Linked DNA regions of Homo sapiens: region 1 is linked to region 2. Evidence: fine-mapped expression QTL. Tissue or cell type: skeletal muscle. Region 2 holds a variant in brackets; the other region holds the start of a gene. All regions are shown on one strand. Distances are between the middles of the regions.

Region 1 (4,130 bases), 47 kb after region 2:
TTGCGGGAGGGGCTGCCTAGAAGAGGAGAGAAGGTGCTCACAGGTAAAGGTGGTCAGAGGACAATAGGTGTGTGTGGACAGGGGAGTGGGGAGGGACTGCTTGAAGCTGCTGAGCAAACAGGGCCAAGTGACCTGCAGCAGATGGTCCTTCAGATGCATCCCAGCTCAGATATTCGGTGCCAGCTGACAGGTGGGCCTGCCACGGTGGCACACAGTAGGTGCTCAATGAATGTTTGCAGAATGAATGAATAAGCACGCTCCAACTTCTGCTCAAAAGTAAATCTTGACACCTTTTCAGAAAGAAACCATTGAAACCTTGTCAACCATTGAAGTTCTTGTCCATTTCACTTCATAAGCACCCCCCACCCCACCCCTGCATGAGGAAAGGCTCGCCTGGGCAGGCTAGGCTGGGGCCTGCTCACTGGGAAGCCTCCCATGCTAAGCCTGCCTCCTACAAAAGGGATTCAAATTTACTTCCTCTCTCCACTCCAGCCTCCAGGGTGTGGCCTGCTGAGGGGCCCTGAATGCCTGGGACTGCCATGTCCCTGCAGCTGTGTGACCTTAGGGGGATGCACTTGTTCTCTGGGACTCAGTTTCCCCAACGGTGAATGAAGGGGTGAATCTGGAAGGCTGACATTCCGTACTCAGCAATGCTGTCACCCCCTCAGAAATCCCCAGCCTAGCCTGGGGGTGGGGTGGGGGGTGGCTGACAATGTGGTATGAAGTCATTCCCTGCACGGAGGAGGGAGGGGTCTTTTCCATGGAGAAAATGACGAACCTGAGACGACAAAAGAGGGGGCTTCTCCTGGGCTTCAGTCTGGGCATGATCCATCAGTAATGGATTACCTCACTGGCTGGGAGACCCCACCCACACCTGCAGTCCCAGGCCCTTCCAAACAATACGAGGCACCCCCATCCCACGCCCCCCAGCAGATCCATGACTTAAAGCCCAGAATCACACCGAGAGGCAGCAGGCCCTGCCCCTCAGCCAAGCGGGCGGGTTCGGGGGGCCATTGCCCAACAGGTCCCTGGATACAGCTAAGGGATGAGAGGGGCCGGTGGGTGCGGAAAGACAAAGGCTTCGGGTAGCAGGAGACAGTGGCCAGGGCACGCTCGCAGCGAGGTCCACCCAGAGCCCAACGAGGGCCCGACCCTGCCGCGCTGGGCTAAGGGTGTACCCAGATCCCACGCCCACACTCCCTACCGCGGTGCTGAGGGCCCGGGGCGGGCTTCCTGGAGAAGGAAGAAGACCCGCAGAGACACGAAGAAGAAGGAGGAAGATGAGACAGACACCCGGACGGACTGACAGGGGGAGACGCCGAATGAGACCCGGGCACAGGGGTGCGGGGCGCTCGTCGGACGGAAAGCAGAGACAGACCCAGATGCAGGGACGGTGGGGGGGGGGCCATGGAGGAAGACAGGGTACCCAGGCAGACCCAGAGACCACGACACCCGCGCAGAGACAGAGATGCGCGGGGCGCACAGAAACACGGACGCGCAGAGGCGGCCCCGGAGACGCTCACCTCTCCCGGCCCGGCCTCGCCCCCGGGTCCCACTCACCGAGGCCGCAGACCTCGCGGCGCAGGCTAAGACGGCCGCGCTCCTCCGCTATGGCACGCAGCATGTGCTGCAGCGAGCGCTCCTCGGCCTCGGCGCCGCCCGCAGGCTCGGGGGCGGCGGCGGCGGGGAGGGCGGGCGGCCCGGCCCGCAGCCCGCCGCGAGCACCAAGGAAGCCACAGTCCGCCTCTGTGCGCGTCGCCGTCGCCGCCGCCGCCGCCACCACCCGCCAAACACAGCACCGGCGAGCGCACCTCCGCGCCGCCGCCGCCCGCGCGCCCCCGGCTCCGCTCGCCCCGCCCCGGCCCGGCCCGGCCCCGGTCCGGCCCCGCCCCTTCCCCGCCCCGGCCCCGCCCCTGTCCCCTCCCGCCCCGCCTCTGAACGGCCCGGACCCACCCCGGCTCCCTGGCCCCGCCCCCTGACCTCCCTTGCCCCGCCCACTTCCAAACGGCCAGTCTCCGCCAATCTTCGGATGCCCAGGACAGCCTCCCTCAAACCGCTCGCGGGGTCCCGCCTCCACCCAAGGTCCTAAACGCCCCACCAACGGGATCACGCCTCTGAGCCCCTCCCGCCGCCCCTTCAGGGCACCTCTCCCCTCCCCCGCTGCTACCCCACGGGATGTGTACTTTGTCACCCGCCCTGTGCGTTGCCACCTCCACCAAGTCCCCTCGGCTGACTTCTGGGAACTTCCTCCGCAGAACCCCTCAAGAGGTCACCTGCTCCCAGAAGGTGGTCTCCTGGGGGACACCGTGGCAAAGCCCTTCCGGCCCCCCTCCTCTGCACCTGGCACAGTGCAGAGTGTTGCGCCTCCATTTCCTCAGCTGCACCATGGGGGACCTTTCCCTGCCTTGCCTCCCCAACATGGGGGAGTGTTGATGAAGGGGGAGGTATGAGGTTAGCTGGGCGTGTCATCCTGATGAAGCCAGGTCTGGCCAGCATCCCTCCGTGTGCTAGTTGTGGCTGATACAGGAAGACACCGGAGAAGCAGCCAGTGGCCTCCCCAAACCTCACGCCTGGTGGTCCATTTCCAAGAACAGGGGGAGATGGAGAGACCAGCATTGATTTCCAGGTCTCTCCAAAGCTAAATCTACATCACTCCCTGCATTCACAGCCTGTGTGTGGACCCCAGACCCATCAAGGTCCCCCTTTCCCCTGTCTGGAGTCCTCTTCTCCCCATTCCTGTGTAACTTGCTTCCTTTGTGTCCCGAGTGTCACATCCTCAAAGAAACTCCCCTGACCGCCTTCCCTCCCTCTCTCTTCCCTTAGTCTGTTTCTCCTTCACAGGGTGACACTTACCTCCTCCCGACACATTGGATACCTATGGGTTCACTTGTTCTCTTCTCTACCGAGGGAGGGGCCTGTCTACTACACAGCTGTTGTCTCAGTACCCAGAACATTGCCTGGCACACATTAGATGCCCAATAAATAGATATGGGCTGCAGGCTGGGCACAGTGGCTCATGCCTGTAATCCCAACACTTTGGGAGGCCGAGGTAGGTGGATTGCCTGAGGTTAGGAGTTCCAGAACAGCCTGGCTAAAATGGTGAAACCCCATCTCTACTAAAAATACAAAAATTAGCCGGGCATGGTAGCACACATTTGTAATCCCAGCTACTCTGGAGGCTGAGGCAGGAGAATTGCTTGAACCTGGGAGGCGGAGGCTGCAGTGAGCCGAGATCCCGCCACTGCACTCCAAGCTGGGAGACAGAGCAAGACCCTGTCCCCCCCCAAAAAAAAAGAAAAGAAAAGAAAAAAAAATGTAGGCTGCATAAACGAAGAATGATGGAGAGGTCTGATGGGGACGCAGGGGTCTTCCTGGGAGGCACAGCAGGAAGGAGCCGTGGGGTTGGGCAGAGCCCCAGAAGGGAGATGGGATCTGGATCCTGCTTCAGGCCTCTGCCCCAGTTTTGTGCCACTGGCCCCTGAACTCTTCAGAGCAGAGCCACATCTGACCCCTCTGTGTCCCCAGTGCCAGGCCCAGGAGGGCTCTGTAGAAAGGTGAGCAGTGAGGGAATGAAGGAAGTGCGCGACCAGCCTCACGTGTATTTCTCTTCTCCAGTGGGCCTGCATCCCTGTCTGTAAAGTGAGGACACTGGCATGAGGGCTGAGGCCTCTGGTTCTGCGTCTGGAGAGCTGGGGTTTGGGCTGGTGGACGTGAGAACTGGGGATGGTGGATCAGACAGCATGAGCGAGTGCTCCAAGGCTGTCAAGTCCAATAGTCACATCCCTCTTTGCCTCCCCAAACCCCACAGCACCCCCTGCCTGTTCCCACTGCCATGCGTTTGCCCACAGTGTTCCCTTGGCCTGAAATCCTTTCTGCTCCGCAACTGTAGTTGCCTTTGGGACCCACATTGCCTGGTTACGCTTGGCCAATGCATTGTGTTCTTATTTGCTTCACAAACCCCCTTTCCCCACCCCACCCTCCTGCACACAGTTGCCTCCGTGTATTCTGTGTCATATGACCAGCATTGAACCAATTCATCCCACTTCCCGTGGCACCCAGCCCAGGACTGGTGCCAGAAAAATATCTGTTGAATGAATGAGTAAACAAACATCGCTTGGGCTCTCTCCTTT
Region 2 (4,000 bases):
TTGGCTCACTGCAACCTCTGCCTCCTGGGTTGAAGCGATTCTCCTGCCTCAGCCTCCCAAGTAGCTGAGACTACAGGTGCACATCACCACGCCCGGTTAATTTTTGTATTTTTAGTAGAGATGGGGGTTTCACCATATGTTGGCCAGGCTGGTCTCGAACTCCTGACCTCAAGTGATCTGCCCGCCTCGGCCTCCCAAAGCACTGGGATTACAGGCGTGAGCCGTGCCAGGCCTTGAAATGCATCTTGAAATGATTTAATACTGCAAATATGGCATCTCTGGCCAAACCCATCACTGACCTGCCCACCTCTTCTCGGACTCCTCACTGGCTCACGGCAGGCAAAGCCAGCACACAGGGTGATTTTTCTCTGCCTCCAACACACTCTAGTTCAAAAAAGTAGTTTGTGTGAAAGCTCCAAAAAAAGTTTCAGGAATCACTGGGGGCAAATTAAGTTTCAATCATTAAATTATTGCTTTGCTATAATATCTGTATTTACCCTGAAATTCCCATTACAGAAAAAGATTAGAGGAAGACACAGAAAAAAAAAATTTAATATTCAACATGCAAAACAACCTTTAAAAGAAACATGAAATCATAAAGCAAAGCTAACAGCCAACCAACAAATACCGCCTAGCAATGATTTCCACTGGATGTGGAAGAGGGTTAATAAAGACGCTGTTGGTAACGCGTACAGAACTATCACTGGCAATCAGCATACTGAGCTATCCAGTGGAGGCCAGCATCGTGTTTTTGCTAAAATACATGTTGTAGAAGTCATAATTCATAGTGAAGAATCTCAACAGGTTTTCTTACAGATTTAATTACTCTCACACAAATAATTCATTTGGAAACCATAAAAGATACCTATTTACACCTAAACTGCCTGGCCTTCCAGAGCGGGGACTAAAGGGGCAGGGCGGGGAAGAAAGCGAGCGTGTCGCGGGCTCTGTGGGGTTGCAGGGTCACTGTTATTTTGATCTGCTGAGCTCAAGGACTGGAAACGGAATAAAAACGCCTACTCGCCTTAGGCAGGATAAGAAGTTGTAAACTCACCCATCAGCAGCTGCCTCCACTTCTGAGGCTCCCCCTGCGGGAGGAGCTCTGAACCCAGCCCTGAGGCCACTCGGTGTCCCGAGGAGTGCTCCAGGGCTCGGAGAAGGGGCTCAGGGGTCCTTTTGCCACTGAGGATCAAGCCAGCCAGTGAAAAAGAAAAAACAAAAGCCCCAGCAGGTGCCCATCACCCGGCTCCCAGGGGTCATCTGCAGAGTCACGTGGCACTCTGGCCACTGCTGAAGAGCTGCTCTCCCTCGAAGGGCAGTGGCTGCCCCCTCCAGAGGCTGCTTCCATTCAAGCTCAAGGGCACGTGCCTTTCCTTATCTCGTGGAGTGTCCGTCCTATCAGGTGGTTGTTTGTAAAACAAAAGTACAGTCATTCTGCTTTCTGATACAGACTAGAGCAAGAGGACAGGAAGAACCAGTGGGCTGTCAAGAGACACTTGGTTTTTGAAACAGGACATGAAAGCAAATCCCACCTAAATTCAAAAATTGAGGAAAACGTCAGTGAAACCTGTTAAGTTCGCTAAAAAGTTGGCAGATGTTTCGTATGTCTTTAAAGGATTTTGGCCAACAACTTAAAACCACCATATTAGGACATGGTCCAGGCAGTCATTAGAATATACTGGCTGCACAGGGCCTTTCCTCTGGGACATCTTTTAATGAAAAAAAAAAGTTTTACTTTGTTCTTCAAAAGTCTTCTACTAACTAGTCTATTTATGATTAAAACAGCAAAAACAGATCCTGGTTTGAGTGCAGGTACATTCTTTGGGGGAGGGCACCTCAGGAACATGCATTTATACCCTTCCTGTGACTCCGTGTAGAGGGAAGACTAACTCACAGTCCATAAGAATCCAAAAGTGAGCGGCGACTTCACTCAGCAACCCATCCTGCCTCCAAGCTGACTTGGCTATAGAGTATCTTGCGTCCTTTTGTTCTCTTCTGACTACCTGTCACTCATGTTTTAAATAATCTTCTTTTGAAATAATAAGCCTTAGCTGGCTTTGCAGGCAACTAGGCACTTCCAGCAGGACATGAGAATGTAAGATGGCCACTACC[G/C]GAACTTACAGGTGCCAAAAGAAGAAAGGGTATAAACGGAGACCACCTATCACTCATCAGAACCTAGGATCATCACATTCCTTTAAATGGAAAAGCCCACCCTACAACTTTCTTTTTAATGTTCTAAAAAGTGACACCTAGGTTTCCTCAACAGAAAGCTGTGCTTCAATCCCAAATCCCCTTGAGACCAACATGCCTTAAAGGGGGTTTGGGTTTAAAGACCAATGTATCTTTTTTTTTTTTTTTTTTTTTTTTTTTTTTTTTTTTTTTGAGACAGAGTTTCGCTCTCGTTGCCCAGGCTAGAATGCAATGGCGTGATCTCGGCTCACTGCAACCTCTGCCTACTAGGTTCAAGTGATTCTCCTTCCTCAGCCTTCCGAGTAGCTGGGATTACAGGTGCCTGCCACCATGTCCAGCTAATTTTTCTATCTTTAGTAGACATGGGGTTTCAGCATGTTAGTCAGGCTGGTCTTGAACTCCTGATCTCAGGTGATCCACCCATCTCAGCCTCCCAAAGTGCTGGGATTACAGGCGTGAGCCACTGCGCCCAGCCCCAATATGTCTTAAAGGGGGTTTGGGATTAAAGTACAGTTTTCCGCTGAGGAAACCTAAGGTCTTAAAGGGGTTTTGGGATCAAGTGTCCTGTTGAGGAAAACTAGGTGTCACCATGCATTAGTCTTCCCCGCATTACACAAAAGGCAGGTGTGTTCCCAGAAAAATTAAAGATGGTCTTACAAGAAGTACAAATGTGCCAACACCAGGACTTTGGGGACCCTGGTTCTGGCCCTGCCACTTGTTACTCTATTACTTTATTCCACATGTCATCTGTTACTTTGGAAAAACAAACCTGGGAGTAACACCTTACTGTCTGGTTCTCAAGTGGCTAAGTGGCTCTGAGCAAGTTTTAAATCCGGCATCGCAAGTACCCTTTGGAGAGGGATTTAGGGCCTGAGAAAGGCAGACTCCACCGAGTGTCTGTCCATCTGTCCGGACAGCACCATGTGGCTCAGCATGCAGGCCAGGCCGCGTGCCTGGGTTTGACTCCCATCGCCGGCCCCTGCTGTTAGTTCCGGACAGTTCCTTGGTGCCTGTGTGCTGGTTTTCTCGTCTGTAAGATGGGGTCGGACAGGCAGCTGCACATGGTAGGCGCTGTGTGTCGGCTATGAAACCACCAGCCCACCGCGTGCCCTGTTCACATGCCTTACAAATTGAGGGCTGATCTCTAAAATAGCATGATTTGTACACGTTTCTGTGACCAGCGAGCCCTTTCACACATCACTGTGACTGGTCCTCATGGTCACCCTGTGAGGGGGGCAGCATTTTTGCCATCTTACAGACGGGGAGCCCAGCTTGCTCTGAGCCATCCAGCAGTGCTGGCCAAGCCTCCGAGCTTGGCCAAATGCTGGCCCCAGAGGAGACAACCTTCTCCCGCCCCTCACCTCTGAGAACAGAGGGCGGGCCGCTGTGCTCCTCACAACCTGGACTGCCTCATCTTCCCACGGACGAGCTGTCAGGGCTGTGTTTCTCCCAAGATCCCCAGAACAACCAGGGGAAGAGTTCCTGAAGAAATGGGTGTATTTTAGCCACATGGACTCAAACTTGGAAGCAGCATTTGGCATCCCCGGAGAGCACTCAAATGGGGCTGGACCATGCTCGGGGCTCCCTGAGGCTCTGTCCCCACACTTTGGGGCATGACATGACCTGGCTCTGTGCTGCCCTAAGACATGGGTTTAGGAACATGAAATCGTGCAGAGCTGAGCTGTCAGGCCTGAGCAGACACTGCTGGGGGAGAGAGAAAGTTCACATCCCCCCACCAAGCACGGTCTCAGATTAGGTTATTACAAAGGGCGAGGGGGAGGAGGGCATCCCAGGAGTCTAACATCCAACC

The links. PIP is the estimated chance that this variant, and not a neighbour inherited with it, causes the effect.
Region 1: it holds the start of KIAA0930, and the variant in region 2 is fine-mapped to the expression of KIAA0930 in skeletal muscle (GTEx, PIP 0.97).

Annotation. Positions count from the first base shown.
Region 1 is chr22:45,239,080-45,243,209 of GRCh38, forward strand. It overlaps KIAA0930, which reads right to left and starts at 1,815. Exons shown (of 10, transcript NM_001009880.2): 1 at 1,561-1,815. The coding sequence starts at 1,624. RefSeq lists silencers at 1,389-1,478, 1,629-1,688, 1,849-1,908, 1,939-2,138.
Region 2 is chr22:45,191,710-45,195,709 of GRCh38, forward strand. It overlaps KIAA0930, which reads right to left. Exons shown (of 10, transcript NM_001009880.2): 10 at 535-4,000. Among named protein-coding and RNA genes, the nearest start is that of MIR1249, 7.3 kb to the right of the region's middle. The variant G/C (reference allele first, on the strand shown) is at 2,113.